Homo sapiens: one gene and its partners. The protein of the gene in region 4 purifies or fractionates together with the protein of the main gene of each other region. This does not show direct contact. Each region holds a gene or a part of one and is shown on either strand. Other genes may lie near its edges.

Evidence for each region.
Region 1: the proteins of REXO4 (region 4) and ZNF512 purify together in Homo sapiens (affinity purification with mass spectrometry; 3 studies listed by BioGRID and IntAct, with this or other methods). This does not show direct contact.
Region 2: the proteins of REXO4 (region 4) and OCRL purify together in Homo sapiens (co-immunoprecipitation; one large-scale study listed by IntAct). This does not show direct contact.
Region 3: the proteins of REXO4 (region 4) and NOC3L purify together in Homo sapiens (affinity purification with mass spectrometry; 2 studies listed by BioGRID and IntAct, with this or other methods). This does not show direct contact.
Region 5: the proteins of REXO4 (region 4) and PUM3 purify together in Homo sapiens (affinity purification with mass spectrometry; 2 studies listed by BioGRID and IntAct, with this or other methods). This does not show direct contact.
Region 6: the proteins of REXO4 (region 4) and KRI1 purify together in Homo sapiens (co-immunoprecipitation; 2 studies listed by BioGRID and IntAct, with this or other methods). This does not show direct contact.
Region 7: the proteins of REXO4 (region 4) and ZCCHC9 purify together in Homo sapiens (co-immunoprecipitation; 2 studies listed by BioGRID and IntAct, with this or other methods). This does not show direct contact.

Annotation. Positions count from the first base shown.
Region 1 is NC_000002.12:27,592,568-27,596,980, reverse strand, and holds part of ZNF512 (zinc finger protein 512), read right to left. Parts: intron 1-4,413. UniProt on the Homo sapiens protein: May be involved in transcriptional regulation.
Region 2 is NC_000023.11:129,570,673-129,575,085, reverse strand, and holds part of OCRL (inositol polyphosphate 5-phosphatase OCRL), read right to left. Parts: intron 1-4,413. UniProt on the Homo sapiens protein: Catalyzes the hydrolysis of the 5-position phosphate of phosphatidylinositol 4,5-bisphosphate (PtdIns(4,5)P2) and phosphatidylinositol-3,4,5-bisphosphate (PtdIns(3,4,5)P3), with the greatest catalytic activity towards PtdIns(4,5)P2.
Region 3 is NC_000010.11:94,335,296-94,339,315, forward strand, and holds part of NOC3L (nucleolar complex protein 3 homolog), read right to left. Parts: intron 3,442-4,020; coding exon 3,313-3,441; intron 2,580-3,312; coding exon 2,482-2,579; intron 1-2,481. UniProt on the Homo sapiens protein: May be required for adipogenesis.
Region 4 is NC_000009.12:133,407,654-133,412,066, forward strand, and holds part of REXO4 (RNA exonuclease 4), read right to left. Parts: intron 3,421-4,413; coding exon 3,332-3,420; intron 1,190-3,331; coding exon 1,115-1,189; intron 229-1,114; coding exon 154-228; intron 1-153.
Region 5 is NC_000009.12:2,826,499-2,830,911, forward strand, and holds part of PUM3 (pumilio homolog 3), read right to left. Parts: intron 3,451-4,413; coding exon 3,276-3,450; intron 2,281-3,275; coding exon 2,177-2,280; intron 654-2,176; coding exon 575-653; intron 1-574. UniProt on the Homo sapiens protein: Inhibits the poly(ADP-ribosyl)ation activity of PARP1 and the degradation of PARP1 by CASP3 following genotoxic stress. Binds to double-stranded RNA or DNA without sequence specificity. Involved in development of the eye and of primordial germ cells.
Region 6 is NC_000019.10:10,559,123-10,563,535, forward strand, and holds part of KRI1 (protein KRI1 homolog), read right to left. Parts: intron 3,716-4,413; coding exon 3,607-3,715; intron 2,724-3,606; coding exon 2,669-2,723; intron 2,595-2,668; coding exon 2,545-2,594; intron 2,144-2,544; coding exon 2,047-2,143; intron 1,959-2,046; coding exon 1,881-1,958; intron 1,327-1,880; coding exon 1,190-1,326; intron 815-1,189; coding exon 688-814; intron 587-687; coding exon 491-586; intron 408-490; coding exon 237-407; intron 1-236.
Region 7 is NC_000005.10:81,307,679-81,312,091, forward strand, and holds part of ZCCHC9 (zinc finger CCHC domain-containing protein 9), read left to right. Parts: intron 1-882; coding exon 883-1,033; exon of another isoform or gene 1,034-1,267; coding exon 1,268-1,360; exon of another isoform or gene 1,361-3,296; coding exon of another isoform or gene 3,297-3,348; intron 3,349-3,532; coding exon 3,533-3,601; intron 3,602-4,413. Other genes in the region: ACOT12 (acetyl-coenzyme A thioesterase), read right to left, coding at 3,297-3,348. UniProt on the Homo sapiens protein: May down-regulate transcription mediated by NF-kappa-B and the serum response element.

The DNA of each region.
Region 1 (4,413 bases), on a different chromosome or scaffold from region 4:
TAGCACAATGTCAGTTCAGCAAGCTAAAAACAAATCCACACATAAAGCAGCTTATTTTAAAGCTTATTTTTTAAAGGAGTCATAAATATTTAAGTGCAAACATCACACTTGTTTATACAGTTTCCTCTAGGAGGGAGGGGATGGAAATGGGGATGAGTAAACATAACAGAGACTGGTTATGTCAGTATGTTACAAATAGGGAAGAATGAGTTTCGGCTCTCCACACATGAGGTCCAATAACACAAATTTAATACACAGAAGTCCTGGCTCTGGAGGGGCAGCTAAGCCCACTAAGGCCCACCCCTCCTGCTCACTGGACTCTGTAAAACAAACAAAAACAAGTAAATTATGCAGGGGAGTCAAAGTTGGGAGAAGTGCCCCAAATGGGGTGAGTTTTCCAATTCTGTCTTTTTCCCTCAAGTAAGAATTTGCAATGAGGATGAACCCCACTTGCAGAGCAGCATAGGCAGCTTTAATTCTAGAAACTCCCTTCTTTCTTACCAGGTAAATCAGGAAAAAAGGTCCCTGTGGACCAGAGTTGGGGGACTGGGGGTGGGAGGAATGCTAGAGAGAAAACAGGCAAAAAAAAGAATCTCTTAATTCAATGTATGAATCCAAATAAGTCACAACTTAACCTTAGCCATGAATGTGTGGCATATACCCATACGTACCAGCCTAGCAAAGACTTTGAAAACCAAAATGAGATTTGAACTCTAATGTGACCCAAACCAAAGCAGCAAAAGCTTGGAGAACTGAAATAAGATTGGAAACACCTGCAGAAGTCTCAGACCAGCCCCTAAGCTATTCATGTTTGGGACAGCTCAAATCAACATAGCAAAGACATAAAGAACAGAACCGAGATTTTAACAAATGCCTCCAAAAGCAAGACAGAAGTTTTGGCCTGAACCTGAAGCAGGGTGGCCTGCTAAAACAGAAACGGCAACATTCCCCAGAAGAATTATAATAGGACCCAAAATCTACACAAAAAGTATTCACAATGATGAGGATAAATTCCAAAATTATGCAACACATAAAGAACCAGGAAAATGTGAGCAATTTTCAAAGGAACAAATGACCAAAACATGCCAGCCACAAGGTGATCCAGATTTTGGGACTATCAAATACTGTCAACAAAAAAGAAATACTTTCTTATAAAGAAAACACACAAGAAATGAAGGAAAAGGTGGGAATCATCAGCAGAAAAAGAAACCATAAAAAAGAACCAAATGAAATCTTAGAACTGAAAAATACAACATCTGAAATAAAAACTCATCAGATAGGTTCAGTAATAGAATGGAGATGACAGAGGAAAGAGTCTGTGAACTTGAAGACCGTTCAATAGAAATGACCCAGTCTCCACCGGGCACAGTGGCTCACGCCTGTAATCCAGCACTTTGGGAGGCCGAGGCAGGCGGATCACAAGGTCAGGAGTTCGAGACCAGCCTGATCAGCATAGTGAAACCCCGTCTCTACTAAAAATACAAAAGAATTAGCCAGGCCTGGTGGTGGGTGCCTGTAATCTCAGCTACTCGGCAGGCTGAGGCAGGAGAATCGCTTGAACCTGGGAGGCGGAGGCTGCAATGAGCAGAGATCGCGCCGCTGCAGTGAGCAGAGATCGCACCACTGCACTCCAGCCTGGGCGACAGTGCGAGACTCCATCTCAAAAAAAAAAAAAAAGAAAAGAAAAGAAAAAAAACCAGTCTGAAGAACAAAGAGAAAAAAAGATTGAAAAACATTCAACAAAACCCTAATACCAAACGTTTTAACTTAAGTGTAGTTGTAATCCCAGAGGGAGAGGCGAAAGATACTAATGCAGCTCTCGCTCTCCCTCTCCCCGCTCTCCTCCCTCTCCCTTCTTCGGTCTCCCTCTGTTGCCAAGGCTGGACCATACTGCCGTGATCTCACCTAGCTACAACCTCCCTACCTCGGGCTCCCCTGATTCTCCTGCCTGGGCCTGCCCAATGCCTGGGATTGCAGGCACGCGCCGCCACGCCTGACTGGTTTTTGTATTTTTGGTGGAGACGGGGTTTCGCCGTGTTGACCAGGCTGGTCTCCAGCTCCTGACCTCGAGTGATCTGCTCGCCTCCGCCTCCCGAGGTGCTGGGATTGCAGACGGAGTCTTGCTCACTCAATGCTCAATGTTGCCCAGGCTGGAGTGCAGTGGCGTGATCTCGGCTCGCTACAACCTCCACCTCCCAGCCGCCTGCCTTGGCCTCCCAAAGTGCTAAGACTACAGCCTCTGCCCGGCCGCCACCCCATCTAGGAAGTGAGGAGCGTCTCTGCCTGGCTGCCCATCATCTGGGATGGGAGGAGACCCTCTGCCCGGCCGCCCCGTCTGGGAAGTGAGGAGCGCCTCTGCCCGGCCGCCACCCCGTCTAGGAAGTGAGGAGCGTCTCTGCCTGGCCGCCCATCATCTGGGATGTGACCAGCGCCTCTGCCCGGCCGCCCTGTCTGGGAAGTGAGGAGCGCCTCTGCCCGGCCGCCCTGTCTGGGAGGTGAGGAGCACCTCTGCCCGGCCGCCACCCCGTCTGGGAGGTGAGGAGCGTCTCTGCCCAGCCGCCACCCCGTCTGGGAGGTGAGGAGCGTCTCTGCCCGGCCGCCACCCCTTCTGGGAGGTGAGGAGCGCCTCCGCCCGGCCGCCACCCCGTTTAGGAGGTGAGGAGCGCCTCTGCCCGGCTGCCACCCCGTCTGCGAACTGAGGAGTGCCTCTGCCCGGCCACCACCCCGTCTGGGATGTGAGGAGCGCCTCTGCCCGGCCGCCCTGTCCGGGAGGTGAGGAGTGCCTCTGCCTGGCCGCCCCATCTGGGATGTGAGGAGCGCCTCTGCCCGGCCGCCACCCTGTCTGGGAAGTGAGGAGCACCTCTGACTGGCCGCTGTGCAATCTTCCAAGTGTGAAGTGACAGCCTTTCTGCAGGTGTACCCAACAGCTCCGAAGAGACAGTGACCATTGAGAATGGGCCATGATGATGATGGCGGTTTTGTCGAAAAGAAAAGGGGGAAATGTGGAGAAAAGAAAGAGAGATCAGATTGTTACTGTGTCTGTGTAGAAAGAAGTAGACATAGGAGACTCCATTTTGTTCTGTACTAAGAAAAATTCTTCTGCCTTGGGATGCTGTTGATCTATAACCTTACCCCCAACCCTGTGCTCTCTGAAACATGTGCTGTGTCAACTCAGGGTTAAATGGAAAAAAAAAAAAAGAAAGAAAGAAAGATACTAAGGCAGAAAAATACATTTGAAAAAAAAAAGGTGGAAAATCCCCCACGTTTGGTCAGATATAAATTTACAGATTCAAGGAGCTCAACAAACACCAAATAGGATAACTCAAAGAAAAACATACCAAGATACATCTTTTTGTTTTGTTTTGAAACACAGTCTTGTTCTGTTCTCCAGGCCAGAGTGCAGTGGCACATGGCTCACTGCAGCTTGGACCTCTCTGGCTCAAGTGATCCTCTCACCTCACCATACCCGAGTAGCTGGAACCACAGGTGCACACCATCATACCCACTAAATTTTTGTGTTTTTTCATAGAGACAGGGTCTTGCTATGTTGCCCAGGCTGGTCCAAAGCACTTTTTTTTTTTTTTTTTTTGAGACAAGGTCTCACTCTGTCACTCAGGCTGGAGTGTAGTGGCTCAAGCACAGCCTCCACCTCCCAGGCTTAAACAATCCTCCCACCTCAGCCTCCTGAGTAGCTGAGACCACAAGTGTGTGCCACGGTACCCAGCTCATTCTTTTGTGTGTGTGTGTGTGTGTGTGTGTGTGTGTGTGTGTGTGTGTGTGTGTGTAGAGACAGGGTCTCACTTTGTTGTCCAGGCTGGTATCAAACTCCTGGGCTCAAGCAATCTTCCTACCTCAGCCTCCCAAACTGCTGGGATTACAGGCATGAGCCACGGTACCCAACCAAGACACATCTTAACGAAACTATTCAGCCAGGAAGGGGAGGGGAGACATGAGGGAGTGAAGAGAGGAAAAAAAGAAAAAGAATATAAATGTATCAGCCAGGCGTGGTGGCTCACGCCTGTAATCCCAGCACTTTGGGAGGCTGAGGCAGGTGGATCACCTGAGGTCAGGAGTTCACGACCAGCTTGACCAACATGGAGAAACCCCGTCACTACTAAAAATACAAAATTAGCTGGGCATGGTGGCACATGCCTATAATCCCAGCTACTCAGTAGGCTGAAGCAGAAGAATCGCTTGCACCTGGGAGGCAGAGGTTGTGGTGAGCCAAGATCGCGCCATTTGCACTCCAGCCTGGGCAACAAGAGCGAAACTCTGTCTCAAACAAAAAAAAAAAAAAAAAAAAAAAAAAAAAAGGTAAACATGGTAAATTATATGGGTATACTTTAACTCAATAAAAAATAAACTAGGCCAGGCATGGTGGCTCACACCTGTAATCCCAGCACTTTGGGAGGC
Region 2 (4,413 bases), on a different chromosome or scaffold from region 4:
TGGAGATTATCTAACAATTTAAAACTGGTCATTACAGTAACTATTTAAAATAAACTGTGGTGCAAACAACATCCTCAAACACTCTCTATATCTTGCTTCATCCACAGCTTGCACCTGAAAGAAAACAGATCCTTGCTTTAGTTTTATGTGTTCTCAACTTTTATACCTCCAAGAGTCTCTAACAATTTTTAAGGTCACTAAAGCAAACATAAATTGAACAAAGCATTATAGAAGCACACGCTTTAAGGTAAAGGTAAGATTAATTGGCTAACGTCCTGTAAAAGTTAAACCCCTACGTTAAGAAGCTTGGTAATAATAAATATTTGGGAAGAATATTTTCTTGCTTCATTGTTAAGTTATTTGGTAGTGGAAAAAATGTGATAATTGTGGTAAAAATGATTGCTTGCACTGTACAAAATGACAGTGTCAAAACACAGCAATTACTGTTTCTAACAATCATAACTTGGTGAGGTGGCAGCAAATATTATTAAAAAGCTTTTAACTCTATTAGATTCTATGTACAATACCAAGAAGTATAATATCACTGCTCAGATTACATAATAGCAGAGATATATTAATAAATGGAACCTACAGCCATTTTAGAAAATGGCTGAAACAAAATGTCCTAGACTAGAGTAAAACCATGACAACGTATAAACACATCTCCACTGATAAAAAAATTTTCCACCTGACACAGCACTTTCAGCTTCCTGATATAGCTGTGTTTTTTTAAATATTAAAACTTCATACAAACCAATGCCAAAATTAACATAACTAACAGATTTTAACTTGAGATATCGGTTTCTTTTTTAGACTAGGAAATTTCACAAAAATTCATGTCAAAAAAAATTGATACATGCAGCAAAGGTTCTAAAAAGATGTGGAAACAGATGCTGGTGAGGCTGTGGAGAAGTAGGAACGCTTTTACACTGTTGGTAGGAGTGTAAATTAGTTCAACCATTGTGCAAGACAGTGTGGCGATTCCTCAAGGATCTAGAACCAGAAATACCATTTGACCCAGCAATCCCATTACTGGGTATATACCCAAAAGAATATAAATCATTCTACTATAAAGACACATGCACACATATGTTTACTGCAGCACTACTTACAATAGCAAAGACATGGAACCAACCCAAATGCCCATTAATAATAAGACTTGATAAAGAAAATGTGGTAAATATACACCATGGAATACTATACAGCCATAAAAAGGAATGAGATCAGGCTGGGCACAGTGGCTCACACCTGTAATCCTAGCACTGCGGGAGGCCGAGGCAGGAGGATCACTAGAGGTCAGGAGTTCGAAACCACCCCAGCCAACACGGTGAAACTCTGTCTCTACTAAAAGTACAAAAAAAAAATTAGCCAGGCATGGTGGTGGGTGCCTGTAATCCCAGTCACTTGGGAGGCTGAGGCAGGAGAATCCCTTGAGCCCGGGAGGCGGAGGTTGAAGTGAGCCAAGATTGCACCACTGCACTCCAGCCTGGGCAACAGAGCAAGACTCCACCTCAAAAAATAAAAAAAGTCATGTCCTTTGCAGGGACATGGATGAAGCTGGAAGCCATCATCCTTAGCAAACTAACACAGGAACAGAAAACCAAGCACCGCATATTCTCACTTATAGGTGGGAGTTGAAGAATGAGAACACATGGACACAGGGAGGGGAACAACACACACCAGGCCACTCGGGGTAGTGGGGCGAGGGGAAGGAGAGCATTAAGGTTAAATAGCTAATGCACGTGGGGCTTAAAACCTAGATGATGGGTTGATAGGTGCAGCAAACCAACATGGCACACATACCTATGTAACAAGCCTATACGTTCTGCACTTGTATCCCACAACTTGAAGTGAAATAAAAATTTTTTAAAATGTTGAAAATAAGAACATCAAAGCTGAGTCAAGTATCTCAGACTGGGGAAGTTTTTCACATATTTGAACTGTAACTCTTAGAGAACCGAGGATCAAACAATCACTTTACCATCACCAGGGTCCATAGTATAGCATTAGTTTAAGATGAATTTTATACTTTTACAAAACTTTGCAACTTTTAATTTCCAAAAGTATTTTGCACATGTCTTTTTATTTTCACAACCTGGAAGGCTACCAAAGCAAGGAATATTTTTGTTCCGATAGTTGAGAACATTAAGATACAAAACAATCAACAAACTTGCTCACTGCTACAGTGAATACCAAAGGTGACATCTGGACTAGTTTAAGACTCTTTCCAATATACTAGATATGTGACAGAATCAACTTGAGTATGTCTTAAAAGCACAGCTGCCTGGGTCTACTAATCACAGCCTCTAGGGGTGAGGACACATGCATCCACACTTTTTTTAAAGCTCTCTAAGCAATTCTTACATCCACTGAAGTCTGAGAACCAATGCAACAGATCACAGTACCAAGTGCAGGGTTGGAACCCTATCCTAGCTCTATCTCAGCCAGCCCACAGAAAGTCTTCTGAAATTAATTGGCCACGGTGCACTTGGCTCCTTTGTTAACAGTCATTGGTGCCAATGGTGGTGAAAATATAGTGTGGTTTTTAAAGCCTCTAATCATAGCATGCCCAAGAATCCAAAACATGGGGTGATTACTCAATAAAATCAAACTTTTTCTCAGCGGGTTATCATGATCACAGCACTTAATGGCAAATCAAAGATAATGAGGAGGGGGGGAACCCCAAAGAATTTCACAACCTGACACATCCATTTTAGTAAAGGAAATTACTGACAAAATTAGGAATTTGAAAAAAAGTACAATGAGCTAGGTCTTTATGTAATAAGATGGGAGGTTCTCCAAGACACACTGCTGAGTTAAAAAAAAAAATCAAGTTGCAGACCAACACATACATATAAGACCGTTTATGATATAGAGACACACACAAATCAGTATTTTGTCTATGAGTGAACAAAAAAGCATATACAAAGGTCTAGAACTGCACTGTCCAGTACAATAGTGACTAGCCACATAGGGAATTTGAATTTAAATTACTTTAAATTAAATTAAATTAGAAGTTCAGTTCTCAGTTGCACTAGCCACACTTCAAGTACTCAATAGCCCCCTGCTGCTAGAAGCCACTGGACTGGACAGCACAGATACAGGACATTTCCATCATCACAGAAAGCTCTATTGGACAGCACTGGTCTAGAAAGATATAAACTCCTAAGGGTAGTGGCCTGGCTGGGGAATGGGGGTTTAGGCAAAGTTGGGAGTAGGAGACAGAACAGGGATTGAAGAACTTCTGCCTTATCTGTCAATTCTGCTTAAATTTCCTTTTAATTTTTTTAAAAGCACTTGTCATTGCTGTATAATTTAAAAATCATTAAAAACTCAAAAGGCATATCTTTATTAAAGATATACATAAATACACAGGAAGCCTGAAAAAAAATGTAAATATCCCACTAGAAGCTCTGCATTAATGTGTATGGAGTATTAAAAACATCCCAAGGTTGGCTGCGAGCGGTGGCTCATGCCTGTAATCTCAGCACTTTGGGAGGCTGAGGCGGGTGGACCACAAGGTCAGGAGATCGAGATCATCCTGGCTAACATGGTGAAACCCCGTCTCTACTAAAAATACAAAAAATTAGCTGGGCGGGAGGCTGAGGCAAGAGAATGGCGTGAACCCAGGAGGCGGAGCTTGCAGTGAGCCAAGATCGTGCCACTGCACTCCAACCTGGGTGACAGAGCGAGACTCTGTCTCAAAAAAAAAAAAAAAAAAACCAAAAAACAAAAAACAAAAACAAACAAAAAAATCTGAAGGTTTTGAAAAGAAATGTAAACAAAAAAGCCAGGCATACCTGATCTAACCAAAGAGGTTAGTGTTTGAGGAAAGATACCCTCTCAAAATGGATTAAGAGAATTCAAATGAAGAAAAAGGGGCAGCCTGCAAGTACAAACTAGAAATTAGATGGGCTAAAAGAAGTTATCTAAAGGTATATTTCATCAAGTTCTATAGAATTATAGAGGTATTGTGGGGTAGTAGAAAGAGCACAGAGTTGGGAGTTAAGCCAACTTAAGATTGGAATCTCAGCTCTCCTCCTAGTTGAATGCTCTTAAATAAGTTATTTCAACTTGCTGTTCTCCATCTGCTCATCTGTTAAATGGGAAATACAGTTGTCCCTTGAGATCTGTGGGGGATTGATTCTGGCATGGCCTGTGTATAATCAAATTCACGCATACTCAAGTCCCACAGTTGGCCCTCCTTATACGTGGGTTTCACATCCTGTGAATACTGTATTTTCCATCTGCATTTGGTTGAAAATATCTGGATATAAGTGGATCTGTGTAGTTCAAACCCATGTTGTTGAAGGATCAACTGTATTTAACTCAAAGCGTTGTTGTGAGGAGTAAATGAGATGTGTGCAAATTGCCTCACATAGTCCCTGCCACACAGCCACTAGCTGCTATCTG
Region 3 (4,020 bases), on a different chromosome or scaffold from region 4:
TCTCCTTTCTTAAGCCTTTGGGATAAGCTCATTCCTCATCCTTCTCCACAAAGGAAACATCTTTCCTTAGCAAAACTGCTAAGGAAAACATGCCATAAAATAATCATTATGAAGAGTGACAAAGAATTGTTTTCTCCTTTTTTCCTTTTAAAAAAAAAGGCTGGTGGGGTGAAGACTGGGGACAGGTGAGAAGTGTGAGGGAAGAAAAAGTAAATGGCCATTTTATTTAATAAGGCCAAAAGTTATCTCCATCCTACTCAGAAGGAAAGGGCTCATGGAAAACTGCAGAGCTCTTGCCTCATGTAGAGGAGGCAGCAACTGACTGACTACTGTCATGTAAAATACAAGCCAATGTCACCAAACCTCCCAGTATTTCAAGAAAAGCGGGAAATGTGAATTTCAGATGAATTCTTTCAATATTTAAAAGACAGCAACTAATTCAATTTTTTTCAAACTCTTGAGGCCAGAAAAATCGGCCTGGCCCACAGGTCACCAAACTATGATCTCTGAATTACAGAAACCAATGGGCTTGCAAACGGAAAAAACCTACAGCAAAATATTAATTCTGGGTAATGAGTACATTGTAAGGTGCTATAGTTTCAATGTGTCCCCTCCAAAATTCAGATACGGAAACTTAACAGTCAATGTGATGGTATTAAGAGGCAAAAGCTTTAAAAGGTGATTAAGCCATGAATGGGATTAACCCATTTATGCCTACTAGTGTTCCATTATCAGAACACTAAGCTTGTAGGAGTTATTTATATCCTACTGCTCAAGGTCATCGCCAAGGTCTGATTTTTCACACACAAAAAAAATTTGCAACCTCTGGCATAAATGGGTTAAAGTCTTTATAGAAGAGGCTTCATGAAGTGAAGCTGTGGCACTGCTCCCATTCTGTCCTGTCTGCCATGTGAGGGCATGGGGTTCCTCCCCTCCAGAAGATGCAGCAACAAGATGCCATCTCAGAAGCAGAGAGGCGCCCTCATCAGTCAACCAAACCTACCAGCACCTTGATCTTCAACTTCCCAGCCTCCAGAATTCTGAGAAAATAAATTTCTGTTTTTTTTTTTTCAGACGGATTCGCTCTTGTCACCCAGGCTGGAGTGCAATGGCGAGATCTCGACTCACTGCAATCTCCGCCTCCCGGGTTCAAGCAATTCTCCTGCCTCAGCTTCCCAAGTAGCTGGGACTACAGGAACCCACCACCACGCCTGGCTAATTTTTGTATTTTTAGTAGAGATGGGGTTTCACCATGTTGGCCAGGCTAGTCCTGAACTCCTGACCTCAGGTGATCCACCCGCATCGGCCTCCCAAAGTGCTGGGATTACAGGCGTGAGCCACTGAGCCTGGCCCTCTGTTGTTTATAAGTTACCCAGTCTTAGGCATTTTTTATGGCACCATAAATGGACTGAGGGATTTTTTATACCATTTTCTCTCTTTCTCTGTATAACTTAAGTATTTCCTGTCTGTATTTAAAAAAAGGTAATTACTGGCTGGGCACAGTGGCTCACGCCTGTAATCCCAACACTTTAGGAGGCCAAGGTAGGTGGATTACCTGAGGTCAGGAGTTCGAGACCAGCCTGGCCAGCATGGTGAAACCCCATCTCTACAAAAATTACAAAAATTAGCTGGGCATGGTGGCGGGTGCCTGTAATCCCAGCTACTCGGGAAGCTGAGGCAGGAGAATCGCTTGAACCCGGGAGGCGGAGGTTGCAGTGAGCCGAAATTGCGCCATTGCACTCCAGCCTGGACAACAGAGTGAGACTCCATCTCAAAAAAAAAAAAAAAAAGTAATTACTATTTTTCACCTTTCTGTACTTGTGAAAATTTTGTAAGTAAACAGTTCAGGGAAAAGAAGACTCTTTTAGGAGGACCTTTTCCCCATCTGGGTGTGAGGTAGATGCTGGAAGTACCCATCCAAGCTGCTTATAGGTCAGAAGGTACTCTGCAAGGGCCAAAAAAAGAAAAAGCTGCCCTTCTGGATGGCAGTGTTCCAAAGCACCTCTTTTCTTCCCTCTCCTCATTTTTTTTTTCTCCTCATCCTGCCCTAACAGGGCCATTCAAAAAAAAAAAAAAGACCGAGCGAGCGAGAAAGCAAGGAAGCTTAATTTGGTTGACTTGTGTTTTATCTTCACATGAAGCACCTATAGCCATAGATTATTCATTGTTGAACCTGAGTGATGGGGGGCATATGGACATTCACTATGCCATTCTACTATCCTGTATGTGCGAAACTTTTCACGATTAAAAAAATGTTTTTCAAGTTGAATGACAGAAGAAGAAAAAAAATGTTTTAAGTGATCAACAAAATCATAGCATGTTTTCTTTCAGAACAATTCAGGAATATGAAGCAAGACCAATCCAGATACCCAACTGGCACTTTACATTTTGTAGTATGTTACTTTATGAAACAGTCTTCTCATAGTAAGTGGCTATCAGCTCAATTCTGTAGTTTTAGAATAAGGCAATGCTAAATATTACCTTCGACTCAACTCTGGTTTGAGTGCTCCAGAGCCTTCAGAAGGTGCTCCAGCGATCAGGTGGGCTGCAAATCTCTGCACTATGGGATGATAATGCCTCTGAAGGGAAAACGGGACAATCACATTCTGCACAGGTCAGTCCTTTACAAAAAACACTAGCCACAGCAAAGATTTTCTTAAATAAAATTACACCAAATTTTTTTTCATCACCTATGTACAGTATATGTAATTCATTAGAAGCACATACCCACAGAAAGAATATTATCTTTGCTAATAGGATTAAAACACAAATCAAGTTACCAGTGAAGTAGTTTAGTCTTGCTTTTACAATATAAATAGAAAAATCAAAAAGCAATTCCTCTTTCAGAGTGAAAAAAGTTAATTTACAACAGGTTACCTGCCACTTCTATTTTCTACAAGTCTCACTCTAATGCTGTCCATACTGTAGGATCACTGCATAGGTGAAACCATCTTGAAACAGGGCTTACTAAAGTCTCCTTGGATAAGACTCAACAGAAATGTACCTGATAACAAATCCTCTGAAGAGTGTTAGGGAAAGATTTCAATAAAGGGAAAGGTTTCAGTAAATCTTCCACAACTGCACCCTACAGAACTGACACTGTTTTCTGCTTCCTTAGAAAATGTACCTCAACAGCTTAAAGAATAGTAACAGCAAAGTAAAATGTAGCATACTAACACAGGAATTCTAAAAAAGGCAGCCCCAGAACAAAATATAATTAAGTACTCTGGCAATAACAACTATTTGAAGAAAAACTGGAAAACAATTATTCACAAACATCCCCAAAAAGAAAAAAACCAGGGCCACTCTTACCCGCAGAGCATGCAGTTCCCACAGAGCAGTGTTCTGAGCATTGCAGTACTCAGGCTCATCCAGTTCAGGAAGGAAAACTCCACTTCCCTGAGATTCACTGTCAAGCAGTAGATCTGTTTTGGGGAAAGTCTGCAAAAATGTCACATAAAAAGAATTGGTTAAATTAACATTGTTAATATAAGAGGTGTTACTGGTTTGTAGTTGTATTTGCATTTAAATTTATGGTTGTATAAGAGCTTTGCATAAAGTCTTTACACCTAGATTTAATAAAAAACAATTTAAGTTTATATAGTAAGAACAAGAGTTGCAAAAAAAAATTTTATCTTTGCTTGCTTTGAAAATTAATTTTATCTTGCAAAAGAAAAAAATATGCTTCTCACCTTGCAATCACACTTTTAGAAATCTGATAGAAATAATTACATCAGATAAATACATAAAGATATTCACTATAGCATCATTTGTAATAGCAAAAAAAGAAATAACCTATATCAAGAGAAATAGAAAGAAGCAGAAAAACCAGACTGCCTACATTTGAATATCACTTCTACCACTGACTGGCACTGCTACTCAAGCCAAGACACTTAACCTCTCTGGACCTCAGTTTTCCCACATGTACAATAGGAACAAGAATAGTAGCTACCTCAGAGTTATGAAAATTAAATTTTTGTAAGGCATTTATAACTGGAAGGCACATAGTCAGAACTATGG
Region 4 (4,413 bases):
CGCTCTACCATTTTTTTTTTTTGACCAATAGCCTCGTAGGATAAGTAGGTGCCCAAGCCCCACCTCCCCCATGTCTGTGTCAGGTGACTCATGTCTGGTTCCAGGTGGGAAACCGCCCCAAACCCCATGAACTACCCCACAGGACACACTTACTGAACAGTGCTCCGCCTGCTGGACCTGGAGCCCAAGGATCTTCTCTGAAAGTAGTCTCAGAGACGGCCTTCCACTCTGCAAAGGGGGAAGAGGCGGGTGGGGGCCTCTGCAGGCTCGGCCCAAAGAGGGTCACCCCACCAAGCAGGGAGCGGTTGGCTACTGAACCTCACCCAAGCGACCTACAGTTTGCCTCTCAGTGGAGAGGTGCTCATGGCACTTAGGGTGGTAGCCACCAGCTGCCATTTATAGCATGATGGGCTGGTGATACACCCCTATCAGCCAATAAAAGGAGAGGGCCAGGGGAGGAGTCAGCATCCCCATCTCCCATCTTGAGGCCTCCCTGCTTATTTCAAGAGGGACAGCTCTGGCCAGGCATGGTGGTTCACACCTGTAATCTCAGCACTTAGGAGGCCAACGAGGGCAGATCACTTGAACCCAGGAGTTTGAGAATAGCCAGGGCAACACAGCAAGACCCTATCTCTAAAAAAATAAAAATAAAAAAATTAGCCAGGGGTGGTGGCATATGCCTGCAGTCCCAGCTACTTCAGAGGCTAAGGTGGAAGGATTGCCTGAGCCTGGGAGGTGGCAGTTACAGTGAGCCAAGATTATGCCATTGCACTCCAGCCTGGGTGACAGAGCAAGACCCTGTCTAAAAAAAAAAAAAAGGATGAAGAACGGCTCTGCCCTTGGCACCCTCTAGAGCAGATACGACAGTGGTACCAGGCCCTTAGTCAGTGACCCTGTTTCAGAGGTTAGAGTGGAAATAACTTGCCCTCCGTTGCAATCATTTTTAAGGTCAGCAATTAGCAGAACTCTATTTTTAAACATTCCTTCTAGTTTTAAAGGTTAAAAGAAAAAACAAAAACCCTTTAACCAACAAGTCAGCCACCAGTGACCAGAAACAATGAAGTGACCAGCAAAACAGAAATACAGTATCTTGAGTCACACTCATTCTAAGTACCTTTACTTGACTCTTGAAAGGTTTATATTTCTGTGTGTCCCGAATCTTCTTTTTTGGATGATCAAGAAATAGTACCTAGAAAAATAAAATATAATGATAATCATTTTCATTTTTGGTTTGTAGTAGCAGAACCCCCTCCCCCCGCCACCTTTTGCAAGTAACATCTTTGTGTGTGTGTGTGTGTGTGTGTGTGTGTGTGTGTGTGTGTGTGTGTGTGTGACGGAGTCTTGCTCTGTCACCCAGGCTGGAATGCAGTGGCTCAATCTTTGCTGACTGCAACCTCCGACCCCAGGTTTCAAGTGATTCTCCTGCCTCAGCCTCCCGAGTAGCTGGGATTACAAGTGCCCGCCACCATGCCTGGCTAATTTTTGTATTTTTTAGTAGAGACAGGGTTTTGCCATGTTGGCCAGGCTGGTCTCGAACTCCTGACCTCAGGTGATCCACCCGCCTCGGCCTCCCAAAGTGCTGGGATTACAGGTGTGAGCCAACGCGGCTGCCCTGCAAGTAACATCTTGTAGGGAATCCAAGTGTGTCACACACACATGGAAACAAGGCACTGATATGAATTTCAACTCCAGAAGGAAATTTATTGCACTGACTTAAGCTGATGCCCAACAGTCAGAGACAATAAAAACAAAATCTTGAAATCAAGGAAGTAGGAGAAAAACAGTCAACAGTTAACCAGCAACCAACTTATTCCTATATTATACTTGTATTTTGAGTTGGTTCTACACATCAGGAAGTTGCAAATAACACATTTTAACAGCTCATCTTGCAATCTTAGCATGCAATTTTTTGTTTTGTTTTGTTTTTTGATAGGATCTCACTCTGTCACCTGGGCTGCAGTGCTATAGGGTAATCATGGCTCACTGCAGCCTTAACCTCCTGGGCTCAACTGATCCTCCTACCCCAGTCTCCTGAGTAGCTGGGACAACAGGCACACGCCACCACACCTGGCTAATTTTAAAATTTTTTATAGAGATGGGGTCTCCCCTATGTTACTCAGGCTGGTCTCTAACTCCCGGCCTCAAGCAATCCTCCAGCCTCAGCCTCCCAAAAAGCTGCGATTACAGGCATAAGCCACTGTGTCTGGTCCTTAGCATCATCTTCAAGAAAGACTTGAACATGTGCTGCGCAAGGTGCCAGGGATGGAGTCAGAGTCAGGAGGGAAGGACGAGTCCCCACGGCAGCAGTCTCTGAGGGGGTACAGCAGGAGCACACAGAAGACCTTTCTGTGAGGACACTGCCCGGGGGGTTCTCACCTCAGTTTCACCCTCTGTAAACAAGCATGAACACCTCCAGCATCTTCAATGGATTCAAGGGATCTCTACAGTGCCGTCACGGGAGCACCATAGCAAAGGCTGCTGCCTGAACATTAGCATCTCTGTCACTTCCTTCTGAACGGCTTCAAGTTCCTCACCACACCCAAGTGCTTCAAGCCGGTGGGCAGAGGTGACAACTTAAGTGTCTCTCCCATCTAGCAGACTGGCCTCCCCGCTGTTCCCACTGTGTCCTTTAAACCAACATCCAGGCATTTGCCCATAAACTCAAAGTGACCCCCACCCTGTTCTCCTGTAAATACACACGTACTCGCTCTGCCTGACTCTTCATTCCTGCCTCGGGTGACCAGGAGATGGCAGGCTGCCCTCCCCACCCATGACGCCTTCCCTGCCCAGGGTCTGTATATGTCTTTGAACTTGTTTCCCACGGTGGTGGTGTCTGAATTTGCACTTTCCATCTGAAGAACCAGGGGCTGCCCCAGGCGGGATTTTCCTCGGGACGCCAGAAAGAAGGCAAAGGCAAGCTCCCAGGGCCAGGGTGATGGTTAGGCAAGCGTAACCTGAACATGGGCCACAGGGCATCTGCCAGGATAAACTTGTTTCCTGTGGAGGGACCCTGGTCACGGATGGGACAACTGGACATTAGGCCTTCCTCCAGGTAAAAGGGGTATCAGCACCTTCATTTCTCATTAGGGCGGGGTTGCCAGCTGCTCTGGTATGGGTACCCCAGTTTCGCTGGGGGCTCTCAAAACAAGAGCCTGGCATGGCTCCTAAAACACAGTAAGAACTCAGCACGCGGTATCTGATATTATTACCAAAGTATTCCCAACATAGAGCACAAACCCACACATTGTTAAAACTCCCCAACACAGCAAGGGCGTGAGTGTAACACCCACGGAGCAGGGGCAGGCTGAGTCCCCAGGAGAGAGCCCAGTACCTTTAGGTCATTATGCAGAGCGTGCCCCACTAGAATTCTGCCCTTCAGCATCTCTGCCACTTCCTTCTGAACAACTTCAAGCTCTTCTCCTGGAAAATCAACACAAAGAAGCGGTTTTTTGCAACACACACATCACCATCATTCTGTGAGGAGGCAGCCCCGCTCCTACCCCTGGTCAGACCTAAGACAAATGGTCAGGCCTGCAATGCCACTACGGAGGGTGACTCGAAGCCACCACATCCACCCACCCCCCTGGGAGAAGTGCCTTGTGGGCCCCTGGCAGGGGTGGCTGCGAGAACCACCTCTGAGGAGAGGAATAAAGTGCTCCACACAGTCTGCAAAGTCGGCTCATGGCTGGAGGAGAGCATATGTTGAGTGTAGGCACTGAGAAACTTTTAGAGCCGCCTGGCAGCGTGGTTCTGCCTATTCAACCTCATGATTTACTTGACAATTTCCCAAATGGAAATAAAAACAAAACTGCCCCCACAAAAATGGGTAGAGATGTGTTGCCCTAGGCCCTGGGCTCCAGAGGCAGCCTTGCCTGCTTCTGGGGACCACCCCACCACCAACCCCACTTGTACCCCCCGAACAGGGGTGATTAGACCAAGGGTGGCCCGAGCCAAGTGGGACCAGCTAATTTTTTAAAAATATTTTTTAGAAGGCCAGGTGCAGTGGGTCATGCCTGTAATTCCAGCACTTTGGGAGGCGGAGGCAGGCGGATCACCTGAGTTCGGGAGTTCAAGACCAGCCTGACCAATGTGGAGAAACCCTGTCTCTACTTAAAATACAAAATTAGTCGGGTGTGGTGGCATATGCCTGTAATCCCAGCTACTCGGGAGGCTGAGGCAGGAGAATCGCTTGAACCCAGGAGGCGGAGGTTGCAGTGAGCCCAGATTGTGCCATTGCACTTCAGCCTGGGCAACAAGAGCAAAACTCCATCTCAAAAAAAAATAATAATTTTTTTTAGAAATGAGGTCTCGCTATGTTGTCCAGGCTGGACTTGAACTCCTGGGTTCAAGCAATCCTCCCTCCTCAGCCTCCTGAGTAGCTGGGACTACAGGCATGAGCCACCGTGCCCAGCT
Region 5 (4,413 bases), about 130 Mb from region 4:
TGTGATTGGAAAATGAGGACAAATGGACAATGAGCTCACTGTATGATGAGGCAAGCAAAGTTCAGGGAACTAAATGATGAATTCTCATTTGTATTCCCATGACTGACTTGAAGGGCAGTGCAATTTACCTTCACTCTGTTCTTCTATGATATAAAGTCCAGGTTTTCATCGTCCACTTAGTTTTACAAACATATCCTCCTCTAACCTTTTAATGCCAAGCTAATTTTTTTTTTGTATTAGCACAGTTGAATTTAAAACTATCCGAATGCTTGAATATTCCTCCACGAGTTAGTTAATTTTCAGATTAGGTTAGCCAGCGGATACTCTCTGGATTATAATTAAGATATAAAAATTTAATATGATTAGTAAAACTAGGGTCAATTCTATTGTTTACTGGAATAAAACCTAAATGGAATTAGCAAACGTGTTCAAAGGGAGTTGAGTAAATTATCTTCCCTAAATAAGGAAGCAACTCTAAAATTTCCACAAGACAACGTACATCAAAGCAGTTTTTCAAATTTCTACACCGCTCCTCCTCCATGTTTTAGTTTAAAAACAAAAACCAAGAACTTACTGATCTGAGTTTGGGGGGTGCATAGGTAAAAAAGTCCAAGAATACTTTATGCACCAATGAGTGCTTAATCACAGCTTCCCTGAAAACAGAAAAAAAAAGCAAAAAGACACAACAGATCTGGCACTACAGTCATACAAAGACAGGTAATCTCAAAGTCCTAAAGTAATCTAAACAAGTGAAATGGTTTTACTGAATACAATTTGTCATAAAATAGACTGTATTTTTCAGAAATACTAAAACTTAAACAAAAATTTAGATGGTAAAATTGATTTAGTGCCATCTACAACCAAGACCAGAGTATAAACTTCTAGTATTTAATCGGCAAACATAAAATCAACATTTGAAATATGCTCTGCTCTATTAAATAAGGACATCTACATTTTTTCCCCCAGCACTGGACATAATGATTAGAAATCCACATGTGGATGTATTTTTTTAATAGTTGTTTTATTTCTGTTAACACCCTTCACAATCCATCTGTTTCACAAAATAATTTTAGCAGAATTAAAACTTGAATGAACCAAACATTGTCAGCAATTGCAACAACACCTACTTAATCCAAACCCCCTAGTGTGACACTTGGTGGATCCAGGTGTACAGTGGAGGCCGATGGTCAGGCATAAAAGACCTAAAGTTCACAGGTGATACCCAAGTAGACAGCAAAAACTAACACTGCCTTTATGGGCAAAGCACTGTTCTGAGTGTTTTGGAACAACCAACCCATTTAATCTTCACAAAATTCCTATGAAGTCTGTACTATTATTATCCCAATTTTACAAATATGGTAATTGAGGCACAGGGAGGTTAAGTTGCCAAAGATTGCAGTTAGTAATAGTTGGGGGAGTGGGGAACCAGGAGTCGTACCCAGGCAGTCGGGTCCCAAAAGCTATGCTCAGCCACTCCACTACTGGACAGATGCCATGAAGGGCACATGCACAGGCTTCCAAGTCTTACAATCCATTTTTTAATTTTTTTTTATTTTTTTAAAGCAAGGTCTCACTCTGTTGCCTAGGCTGGAATGCAGTGGCACAACCATGGCTCACTGCAGCCATGACCTCCTGGGCTCCAGTGAGCCTCCTGCCTCTCAGCCTCCCAAGTAGCCAAGACTATACACACATGCCATAAAGCCTGGCTAATTTTCTTATTTTTTCGTAGAGATGGGGTCTTGCTATTGCCCCAGATGGTCTTGAACTCCTGGCCTCAAGTGATTCTCCCAGCTTGGTTCCCCAAAGTGCTAGAATTATAGGCGTGAGCCACTGTACCTTGCCTACAACCAAATTTGAGTAACAGATTATATTTGTGAAACTGTTTAGTATACATGGCTTCCATGTAACATTTTATTTGGGGAAAGAATGTTTCATTGCTTAAAAAAGCTCATAAATCACGAATGCATGTTAGTTATCATTTTATAGGGTACAATATCAGAAAAAGAAATCTCCTTTTGCACCAAGAATGGTTTCAAACCAACACTTTTGCACTCTTATTTAGAATAGATTAATACTTGTAAGCAGGAAATAGCTACCTCTTCTGGGCAACAGTTATGGAAAACCTTCCTCCTTTGAATGTCATTTCTTAAGAACAAAACAAAAACAACTTTCTTACTTTTGGGCCATTGGAGTTAGAATCTGTTTCATTTCATCCATAATAAGTTCTAATTTTTCTGGCTGTACCTCTAACACTTTGTCCAGAGTTCGGTGATCTGCTGACTGCAACAAAACAAAACAATCAAACCCCTCTAAATTTAATCAATTTTTTCACTTCAGGAAAAAGAAAAGTAATTAGTCATTTTAAAATAAGTTTTAACAAATTTAAGATTTCCCATATTTACATAATGAAAGCTCTGCTGTATATCCTTGTGGAGTAACCTGATTAGCTGATTCTCAGTCTGTGTATCTATCAGTGCATTTAAAGAGCCAGGCCAACCAAGTTAACCAGCTAACAGTTACTTGCCAAGCACCTAGCTCTTGCCCAATTATGAGATCAAGTAGTCACTTCACAAATTCTTGCCACCATATGTTTTATAATTAGTTGGCTATTCCTATTAAATATAACGAACTGTTAACAAAATTAGTACAGCAACAAATTCAACCCAAGAATTGAACCTGGCTAATGGAGGCAACCCGGGAATCAATCCATATCCCTTCAGACACATGTGTGCATTTATGTTCCAAGGTTTGAAATAGATTCTTTAACCAGCTAGTCCCACTGCTAACTATTCTCAGATTCAATCCCTGTACTCTATCCAAGGTTAGGTCTCTCTGTTCCCCTTCATCTCCAGACACAATCTGAAGAAGGGCAATGCATGCACATGAAAAAACACAGGAGAAGCTAGCAACAGAGAGCCCAATACACTTCAGCCAGAGCTGGTTGGGGGTGGTCACACAACTTTGCTAACTATTGGGAGTCTTGTCCTTCAGTATGACTGTAAAAATAGAAGTATTGAAGTGCTACACACAGAGCACTCAGGAGAGGAACAAAGTTTGAATTGAAGGGGATTTAAAGCCAATGCTCTGGAGAAAGAGAAACTTGCTCACTATACCAGAAACAAAATAAAGCATGAGGGAAAATCAAGGGCATAAGATGGTCTCTTAAAGAACCAGCCACAGTAAAAATACATTCAAAAGATATATAGGGCACCGGAAGTTAAGGAAGAGCATATCGAAAAGTAAAAATACTAGAAAAAGACTTCTGGAGATGTCACCTTGTAAAGCTGAAATGTGTTCCCATAGAGCTCTTCCGTCAGCATGTTCCTCTGCTCCAAAATGGCTTTGTCATTGTATGCGTACTCCACGATGGCTGATGCTTCCGCATGCCGCAGCATCTTCCTCACGTGGCCTTTAAAACTTCTGATTATCTCTGCAATCTGTGGTTTACTTCTAAACGCAACACAATCATGGAAAAATAAATGATAGAAGGAGAAAGCTGGGTGACAATAAAACACAACTTACTTCTCCCAAGACCAACTCATCAATCTGTGTCACTCTGAGGAGTAAATGAGCTAGCATGCATTGAGAAGCTGTGGCCAGCACATAGTAAATGCTCAATAAATGTCATTTCCTATTAAACTGTTCTGCTCGAAAAAAACAGTAGGGCAGGAAAAAAGATAAAAGATTCAAGGAAATAGAAAATCATATTCTAAGATTCCTTTTGAAGATGGGACTTAATCACAAGTATTTTAACTATATCCTAAAAGAATTAAACAGCTGGAAACTACAGCTAGGAATACATTTTTGAAAATTTTGTCAACTGCATATATTACACTTTTTGTTGTTGATTATCATATTCTAGCACATTAATACACTCAAAAAGATTGGTCAAGACAAGTACTAATTCCACTTAATTTAGGAAATTCTCCCATGTTGACATTTTCTAACCCACTGACCCTCTATCAGTTTACTCACCTGTCCCTCCCCAGTCTCCACCCTCTTAATACTGGTGGCTAATTATAAGTTAATTATTCTATTTCTCTTCTTCCAGAGGTTCAAGATAAACATTCACAAATCATCCATCATGTAAAATTATTTTTACTATGCTACAATACCAGTCTACTTCAAAAGTGCTTATCTGTTGCTCACTCTGTCTTTAAAACTTTTGAATGCCAACAAATCAGAAGGTGAGGGTATACCTCCATCAAAGTCATAAATTTCAAGGAGATTTGCAGGACATTTCTCATGTATCTTTTTAGGAATGAAGGCAGTACCATAATTTTACATTAATTTCGATAATTGTATTTAAGATGATACTCTCTAAAAACAACACAAGCATCTGCTGAGAGCCATTACTATTACTTATAAAGACCACAGACTTCCTATCTCGCATCTGAGCACAGTTGGAAACCA
Region 6 (4,413 bases), on a different chromosome or scaffold from region 4:
GCCTCTCAAGTAGCTGAGATTACAAGCATACACCACCACACCTGGCTAATTTTTGTATTTTTAGTAGAGATGAGGTTTTACCATGTTGGCCAGGCTGATCTCGAACTCCTGACCTCAGGTGATCTGCCTGCCTTAGCCTCCCAAAGTGCTGGGATTACAGGCGTGAGCCACCGTGGCCAGTGAGAGCCATGTTTGTGTGAACTCAGCGTCATGTTGGGCCGGGATGAGGGCCGCACCTGCATGAGCTGGTCGTGCTGGGCAGGGTCGAAGTCGTCTTCAAGGTCCCCCTCCTCGAGGCCCAGCATCTCGTTGCCTGTTACTTTCCGCAGCTTCTCCAGCTTGGCCAGAATCTCCTTCCTCTTCAGGTTCTTCAGCTGCTTGAGCTCTTCCTGCTTCTTTGCTTTCTCCTGCAGGCCCAGGCAGAGAGGGGGAGGGCATGGGCTTTCCTCCAGGGCTGGGGGGTCCTCCCCAGCTCACCCCCCACACTCACCCTCTTCTTTCGCTCCCGAGTCTCTTCCCTCTTCTCCTTTCTGCGCTCATCCTTACGGCGCACGGAGGACGCGATGCTGCGTGGGTAGGTCTTGACCTAGGCGCAATCAGAAAAGCCCACAAGGGCCGCAGAGATGATGTGGGGTTCCCTGGGCCTGAACCCTGGGGGCTGAGTCCTCCCCAGCCCCAGCCACACACCGATGCTGAGTCCGGCTCCTCGAAACGGAAATTGTACTTCTGTTCAAAGTCCTCCTGTTTCTTCAGAAACAGCTCCCCTTCGTCTGAGGAGTCGTCCACAGCCAGCTGGACTGGGGGACCGTGGACCCTGAGGGGCAAGATGTGGTGATGCCAGGGGGCCAGCCAAGTGAGGTCGAGCCCCCCTTTCCTGCACGCCTGGGTACGAAGCGTATGAACTCATTTAATCCTCACAAGAACCCTACAAGGTGCACGCTGCTATTGTCCTCATTTTACAGATGGGGAAACTGAGGCATGAAAGTCTTGAAGCCGAACCAGGATTTGAGGCAGTGCCACCTGGCTCCAGAGCCTATACTCTGTGGCTCTGCCTTACAGAAGACTAACTCTGCCACCATCTGTGAAAAAAATACACACATGGTGCCCTCTGCCTCCTGGCCAGTGCCGCCTGGGAATACTTCATGAAGCGCACCCAAAATCTAGGTCCTGGGGAGATGCAGTGGCTCACCCCTCCTCTTCCTCCATTTCCTCTTCATCTTCCTCCTCCTCTTCCTCCTCCTCATAGCGTTTGTTGAGGATGTAATCCCGCAGGAACCGCTCCCCTTCATCCAACTCAGGGTCGTTCCAGTATTCCTTGAGATGCGTCTGGGGGTGACAGGAGACAGGACTCTGGTCAATGGAGGACAGGGAAGGAGGGCAGGCATGCTCACCACATGGACCTCACAGCCAGCCTCTGGAGTAGGTGACATTAGCCCCATTTTGGTTTCTTATTTTTATTTCGAGACAGGGTCTTACTCTGCCATCCAGGTGACAGTACAGTCGTGTGATCATAGCTCACTGCAGACCCAACCTCCCGGGCTCACAAGATCCTCCCACCTTAGCCTCCCAAGTATTTGAGACTACAGGTGCATGCCACCATGCCTGGCTAATTTTTTCATTTTTTTGTAGAGCCATTTTGCTATGTTGCCCAGGCCAGTCTCAAACTCCTGGCCTCAAGCAATCCTCCTGCCTTGACCACCCAAAGCACTGGGATTACAGGTGTGAACCACGGCACCCAGCCTATCCCCATTTAAAGAGATGTAGGAGCTGAGGCCCAGAGATGTACATATCCCATCTTCAGAGGGTTACTTTCTGTAAATAGGTTGGATGGACGCGGAACACGCGGTCTACTCCATCAGCGACCATGCGTGAGAACTCACCAGTTCCTTCAGGGAATCTGGGTTCCGAATCTCTTTCTGTCCCTTCAGCCACTCGATGTAGTCGGCCTCCTCCTGGGCCTGGGGGAAAGCTAGCACTGAGCATCCGCAGATGCCCAGCCACCCGCCACCCTGTCCCCCAGCAGTCCAGTCAGGCCCCAGTACCCACCTTCTCCTGCCTGGTTTTGGCACGTTTCTGCAGCAAACTGGAGCCGCCCTCCCCAGCGCCGTCCTCGTCCTCACTGTCCTCCACAAATGCCCGGAAGCTGCCCACGAGAGAAAACAAGCCTCAGGACAGGCAGGCTGGCCCCTGTCTGCTGCCCCAGTATTTATTTTATTTTGTAGAGCTGGGGTCTCACTATGTTGCCCAGGCTGATCTTGAACTCCTGGGCTCAAGTGATCCTCCCTCCTCTGCCCACCAAAGCCCTGAGATTACAGGCATGAGCCACCTCACCTGGCTGGCTGCCCCAAGATTAACCCCATTTACTAAGCCCTGAGCTCTCCTCTCAACAAGCTCAGAGCAGTGCTGTGATGTTATTAACCCCGTTTAACTGATGAGGAAACTGAAGCACATAGAAAGTGACAGAGCTCAATTTGAACCCGTGCCTATCCAACCCCCGAGCCTCAACTTTCCTCCATTGGGCCATTCCCGCCCACCCAGCCTCACCTTTCCTTGAGCTGTTTCTGTTCCTCCACATAACTTTGCGACGATGTCTCCTGCAGAGAGGGCCATAGGTCTCAGGCCAGCCCCAGGCCCCTCAGCCCCCCGACCCAGCCTTCACCCCACCCACCTGGAGTCTGTGATTGGAAGTCTCCCCGTCTGAGTTCTCCTCATCAACATATTTGCTGTAAAGGAAAAGTGGGGTCTTCAGAATATATCTTCCAGGGCCCGCCTGTCCCCATGCCCATGCGGAGCAGCTATTCCAAGCAACAGCTGGCGGGGGTCATCGGAGGGCTATGGAATCACTGAGACTCCTGCTCTCAGGGCTATCTGCGATTCTGGTGAGTTTCCAGCGTTTTTTTTTTTTTTTTCTTTTCCAATCATGGGTGACAGCATTTCTTTTTTGGAGCCAGGGTCTCGCTCTATCCCTCAGGCTGGAGGGCAGTGGCATGATCTCGGAAAACTGCAACCTCCACCTCCCAGATTCAAGCGATTCTCCTGCCTCAGCCTCCCCACGTAGCTGGGACTACAGGCGCCCACCACCACATCTGGCTAATTTTTGTATTTTTAGTAGAGACGGGGTTTCACCATGTTGGCCAGGGTGGTCTCAAACTCTTGACCTCAGGTGATCTGCCCGCCTCAGCCTCCCAAGGTGCTGGTATTACAGGCATGAGCCACCATGCCCGGCCTTTTTTCTTTTTGAGACAGGGTCTTATTCTGTTGCCCAGGCTGGAGTGCAGTGGCCTGATCATAGCTCACTGCAGCCTCCATCTCCTGGCTCAATCCTCCTGCCTCAGCCTCCTGAGTAGCTGGGACTACAGGTACACATCATCATGCCCAGCTAATTTTTAATTTTTTTGTAGAGGCGGGGTATGTTGCCCAGCCTGGTCTCAAACTTCTGTCCTCAAGCGATCCTATTGCCTCAGCCTACCAAAGTGCTGGGATTATGGGCATGAGCCACCATGCCCGGCCCAGGCTGCCAGCTTTTTTCCCTCTCCTGCCCCTAAGACCCCCATAGACCTGACAGGGCTGGGAACCAGGGGGTGGGGATGTAGGCCTTCTCCATACCCTGCCTTCTCCAAGATAACCTTCCTCTCGTAGTCCTTCAGGTACATGGGCCGCACTTTCTTCTGCTTCTCCAAGGCTTCTGGGTCCTCCTCACTGTCTGATGACGATGCTGTTAACCCACCAAAGACACCTGCCATCACCCACAACCCCCTTCTTTGCCGTGGCAGAGAATCCCACAGGGCAGGGCCAGGGTTAGACAGAGGATTCAAATCCCAAATCCACCAATTCCCAGCTGTCCAAGAGTATTGTGCTTGTCACCATCTGGTGGGGTTGGGGTCATTCAGTCAGTAATTCCTGCTTTGATTATTATTATTGTTGTTATTATTTATTTACTTATTTTTTTTTGAGGTGGAGTCTCATTCTGTTGCCCAGGCTGGAGTGCAATGGCATGATCTCGGCTCACTGCAACCTCTGCCTCCCGGGTTCAAGCTGTTCTCATGTCTCAGCCTCCCAAGCAGCTGGGATTACAGGTGCCCACCACCGCGCCCGGCTAATTTTTATATTTTTAGTAGAGATGGGGTTTCTCCATGTTGGTCAGGTTGGTCTCGAACTCCTGACCTCAGGTGATTTGCCTGCATCGGCCTCCCAAAGTGCTGAGATTACAGGCGTGAGCCACCGCACCCGGCCATTATTATTATTTTTTTGAGACAGAGTCTCACTCCGTTGCCCAGTGCATGGCGTGACTTGGCTTACTGCAACCTCCGCCTCCCAGGTTCAAGCGATTCCCCTGCCTCAGCCTCCTGAGTAGCTGGGATTACGGGTGTGCACCACCACGCCCAGCTAATTTTTGTTATTTTTAGTAGAGAT
Region 7 (4,413 bases), on a different chromosome or scaffold from region 4:
ACAAGGATATACTTTTTGCTATGAAATATATCTTATGGCCAGGCGTGGTGGCTCATGCCTGTAATCCCAGCACTTTGGGAGGCCGAGGCGGGTGGATCACCTGAGGTCAGGAGTTCGAGACCAGCCTGGCCAACATGGTGAAACCCCGTCTCCACTAAAAGTACAAAAATTAGCCAGGTGGTGGTACACACCTGTAATCCCAGCTACTTGGGAGGCTGAGGCAGGAGAATCACTTGAACCCAGGAGGCAAAGTTTTCAGTGAGCTGAGATTGGGCCACTGCACTCCAGCCTGGGTGATGGAGTAAGACTCCGTCTCAAAAAAAAAAAAAAAAAAAAAAAAAAAAATCTATCTATCTATCTATCTATCTATCTATCTATCTTATGGTTTGAATCATAATTTGAATGGAAATGTCTGACCCAAATTCATTCAATTATGTGAACTTTAAAAGAAATATTAATTTTTTAAAATTTTGAGTACATAATTATATACAAATACAAATTTTGAGTGACAGTTTTTATAGCCACTGTCCATTTCCTATAGAAAATGCCATTTTTCTACTGCAGACATTCCAGTTAATAAAATGAATAGTCCATATTTGCTCAATTCATTTAAGCAATTGCCGTCTACAAAGCCACATATATAACATTGTTCCTGAGATTTATGGATTTATTGATTGAGGTTTTCAAAAGCAATGAAACCCTCTGATGGAAAGGATATCTCGTTGTTTAGGAACGTATGAAAGCTTTTTTCTACAAATATTGAGATTTCAGAAAAATAGCTTAATAAGATGAGAAATGTTTTAAATATGTTTTTGATAACAAGAATTAATAAAGTCACTGGTATAGTTTTGCAGCGTGCCAACCTACGTTTTGTTTTCCTAGGTGTGTTTCCATTGTAGAAAACCTGGTCATGGAATTGCAGATTGCCCCGCCGCCCTTGAAAATCAAGACATGGGCACTGGGATATGTTACAGGTGTGGGTCCACAGAGCACGAAATAACCAAGTGTAAGGCTAAAGTAGACCCGGCTCTTGGTATGTGTTTCTTTCAGTTTTTTGTTTTGTTCATGGGGAAAGCCAATAAATAGCACCTTGGGTATTTTTTTAACACAATTTGTTACGAGTGTGCCACTTAGTATTTGGAAATCATATGAGATTAAATTTTAAGTTATGTAAATATATTTTTTATTCAGAGTATTTTAAAATAATGTTAATTTTATGACTTGCCATATGTATTGTCAACTGAATAGGAACTGTTGATTTTTACAGGCGAATTTCCTTTTGCAAAATGTTTTGTTTGTGGAGAAATGGGGCACCTGTCTAGATCTTGTCCTGATAATCCCAAAGGACTCTATGCTGATGGTAAGTACTGTTACCCTCATATAGCAGAAATGGTGAGTCATCGTGCAGTTGTGATTTAATTTACACTCAATCACAGTTCTTGAATAAATTCTTGAATAAATTGCAAAACCTTGAGAATTACATTATTTTTATCAAGTGCTATCATATGTACTAGGCTTTTTGTGCAATTTGACTTCAGATGTTAATAAAACAAATCAGAAAAAACTAAGGTGTATATTTCCAACTGTGCTTGCTTCATCATTTGTGAGACTATGTCATACATTTCTACTTTTAGACATAACAGAAGCAGAGAGATTATATCTCAAGCTAATATGAGGTTTTTAAAATCGTATTATATATTCAGCCTCAGCCAGCATATCATTTTGGTGGAGGGGTGGGTACAGATGATTCAATATTGTAGTAATGTTTGCTTCTGAATTTTTTTTCTTAGTTATTTGTCTGGTATGGGATCATGTAGCTTTTTTCTCTTTAACTCGGGTAATTAAGGTTCACACAGTAAAGTCTATGCGGTCTAAAGCTTTAAGGCGGAGGTTGTTATCTGTTAATGTGATGGCTGGTGCCATCAGGCTCTAGACGTTTCTTGTGTCATGTCCTGGGTTTCCCTCCTGGAGAAGTCCAGTGAAAAAGCATAGCTTTTGGAGTTGGTCAGACTTGGGTTACAGCGCCAGCACTGCCACTCACTAGCTGGGGGGCTTTGGCCAACTACCAAACTCTGATCTCCGTTTCCTCACCTATAGAGTGGAGATGATAAAACTATATTTTATTGATTCTAAGATGCACAGTTTTTCAATTTTAATCTCTTGGAAATCAGAATGTATCTTACCGTTGGTGGGTCCCATATAATTGACAGCTGTTTTTCTTTCTGAGAGGTATGTGCAATAATGATACATCTTATAATCAGTGGTGTCTTAGAGTTGATGAATTATGGTATTTGCCTAAAGAATTTTTATAAGGATTAAAATGTATTATTCAAGTGCTTCTCTTTCACTATGGCATATAAAGAGGCCAGGGCCTGGAAAATGCTCAGGTGCATTTCAGTTTTGAGCTTATAAAACTGGGTAGATAACATGACTAGTGAGCAAAAATGGCTTTCACTGGTCAACCAAAGTGACTAGCTGTAAAAAAAAAAAAAAAAAAAAAAATTAATGCAGCAAGGAGAGTAGATCCCATAGATGTGAAAATTTGGCCATATTTGCCTGTGTGTGCCTTGATTTTATACCTTGTAATCTTTTGTTTACAATAAGGGGCTTTCTGCGATTTGTTTTAATTTAGAACACTTTAGTAGCAATAGAAACACTGGATACATTTTTGTATGGTACATTTGATGTATATAGAATTAGTACTTTATTTTTAAGAGGTAAAGCATTATGTTGGGGGAAAAGTAGGGTGGGTTTCCACATTTGCATTTTTATGTTAAAAATAAAGTCAAGATTTGGGGGAAAAAAAAAAGAAAATTCAGCCAGATTTGTATCTGATTAGGTCATTTTTCTAAGTCACTTAACATTTCGAGCATGATCAAGATAATGCTTGACCATTAAGCAATAGTGTTTGATCATTAAGTGAAACACTTATTTTAGAAACCACATGTGTTGTAATTCACAATCCTGGAATGTTGTTTAAAGTAGGCAGGTGGGCATTTTTATAGGGTTAGGGTGCCTGGCCAGTGGAAGGCACTGAAACAAAAATTAACTTTATTTCTTTCATAAATGCTTACCCCCATCTGATCTGTACAGTAGAACAGTAGTTTCTAATCTGTTTTTGGGCCATTGACTGTTTGAGAATCTGACATGCTATTCAGGAAAGTGCATCTGCTTACATCTTTTGTTTACAGGTCCAAGGGTTCACAGACTCTTGATTGTCTAAGCATTGTTAAGATCCAGGCTTCTGTGCAATAGCTCTTGAACAAGTGCCTTCCATCATATCTCATTTCTTTTTCCTACTTCTCAAGGCCAGGTGCAAGAAGCAGTGGGTGGGTACAATTTAGTGCTCTGTGAGGTTAAAAGGAATGGAGAATGAATTAATAGGAATAGTGGCACCTCCCTATGATCCTGGTCTAGCTACCTTTACAACTGACAGGGTTGTGAGGATCCAGTAAGATGTGAAAGTGCTTTGAGATGTTAAAAACCCCTTGCAAGTATGAGATGGTATTCAGTGGCTTTGCTCTTTCAATAGGTGGCGGTTGCAAACTTTGTGGCTCTGTGGAACATTTAAAGAAAGATTGCCCTGAAAGTCAGAATTCAGGTGAGATCTCTGGGCCTCTACTTAGAAGGGGTGAGATTAGTATTCCTCTGCGTTTTATTCTGCACTTGTTATTAATAACTCAATTGGGATACTAATGATTTTAAGACAACCTGTTTTCCTACTGTAGCAATGACTTAATCTCTGTCAGCAATAGACACACATAGTATTGAGTAACTGAATAGTTGGGGGAAAAAAGTGACCAGTAAGCCTTAGGGGACCCTGACTTTATAAGACACCTGATTCATAAGCATTTATATTTGCTAACTAATGAATTTAATATAATAGAGCCAATTCTGTTACTTACAGAAAAATATGAATTCACTGAGAAAATAAAAAATATGAAATAACTTTCAATAGCCTTAATATTGAGTGTCCTTATGTATGCTTTGCTTTGTATGTACCTAAAAGATTCAGAGTTGATTGCAGAAACTACCAAAAATATTAAAAATGTGTTATCTACACAGTATCTGGCGATTTTCTTCCTGATGAAATACCAGCCTTATTCATCAAACACTTCAGAGATGTTCACTCTACCTATGGCAGACTTTTAAGGAAGTGGAGATCATTATTACATTAGTTTGCCTGGACTAGAATGATAATCCTATGTGAAGGAAAGCAAGAAGACAGTAGGATAGCCCAGCAGTGCTTCTTATGGAAAGAGCACTTTTTTTTATTTCACGTAGTCACAACACTACGCAAATAAGTCTGCTCATTCTTACTTCCTATCCCTAACATTTAAATTTGAAAACCAAGAGTTCTTATTTACAAGCTTGTCTAGAAGATAGTCTTTAGTACATTGTAGGCAGTGAGAT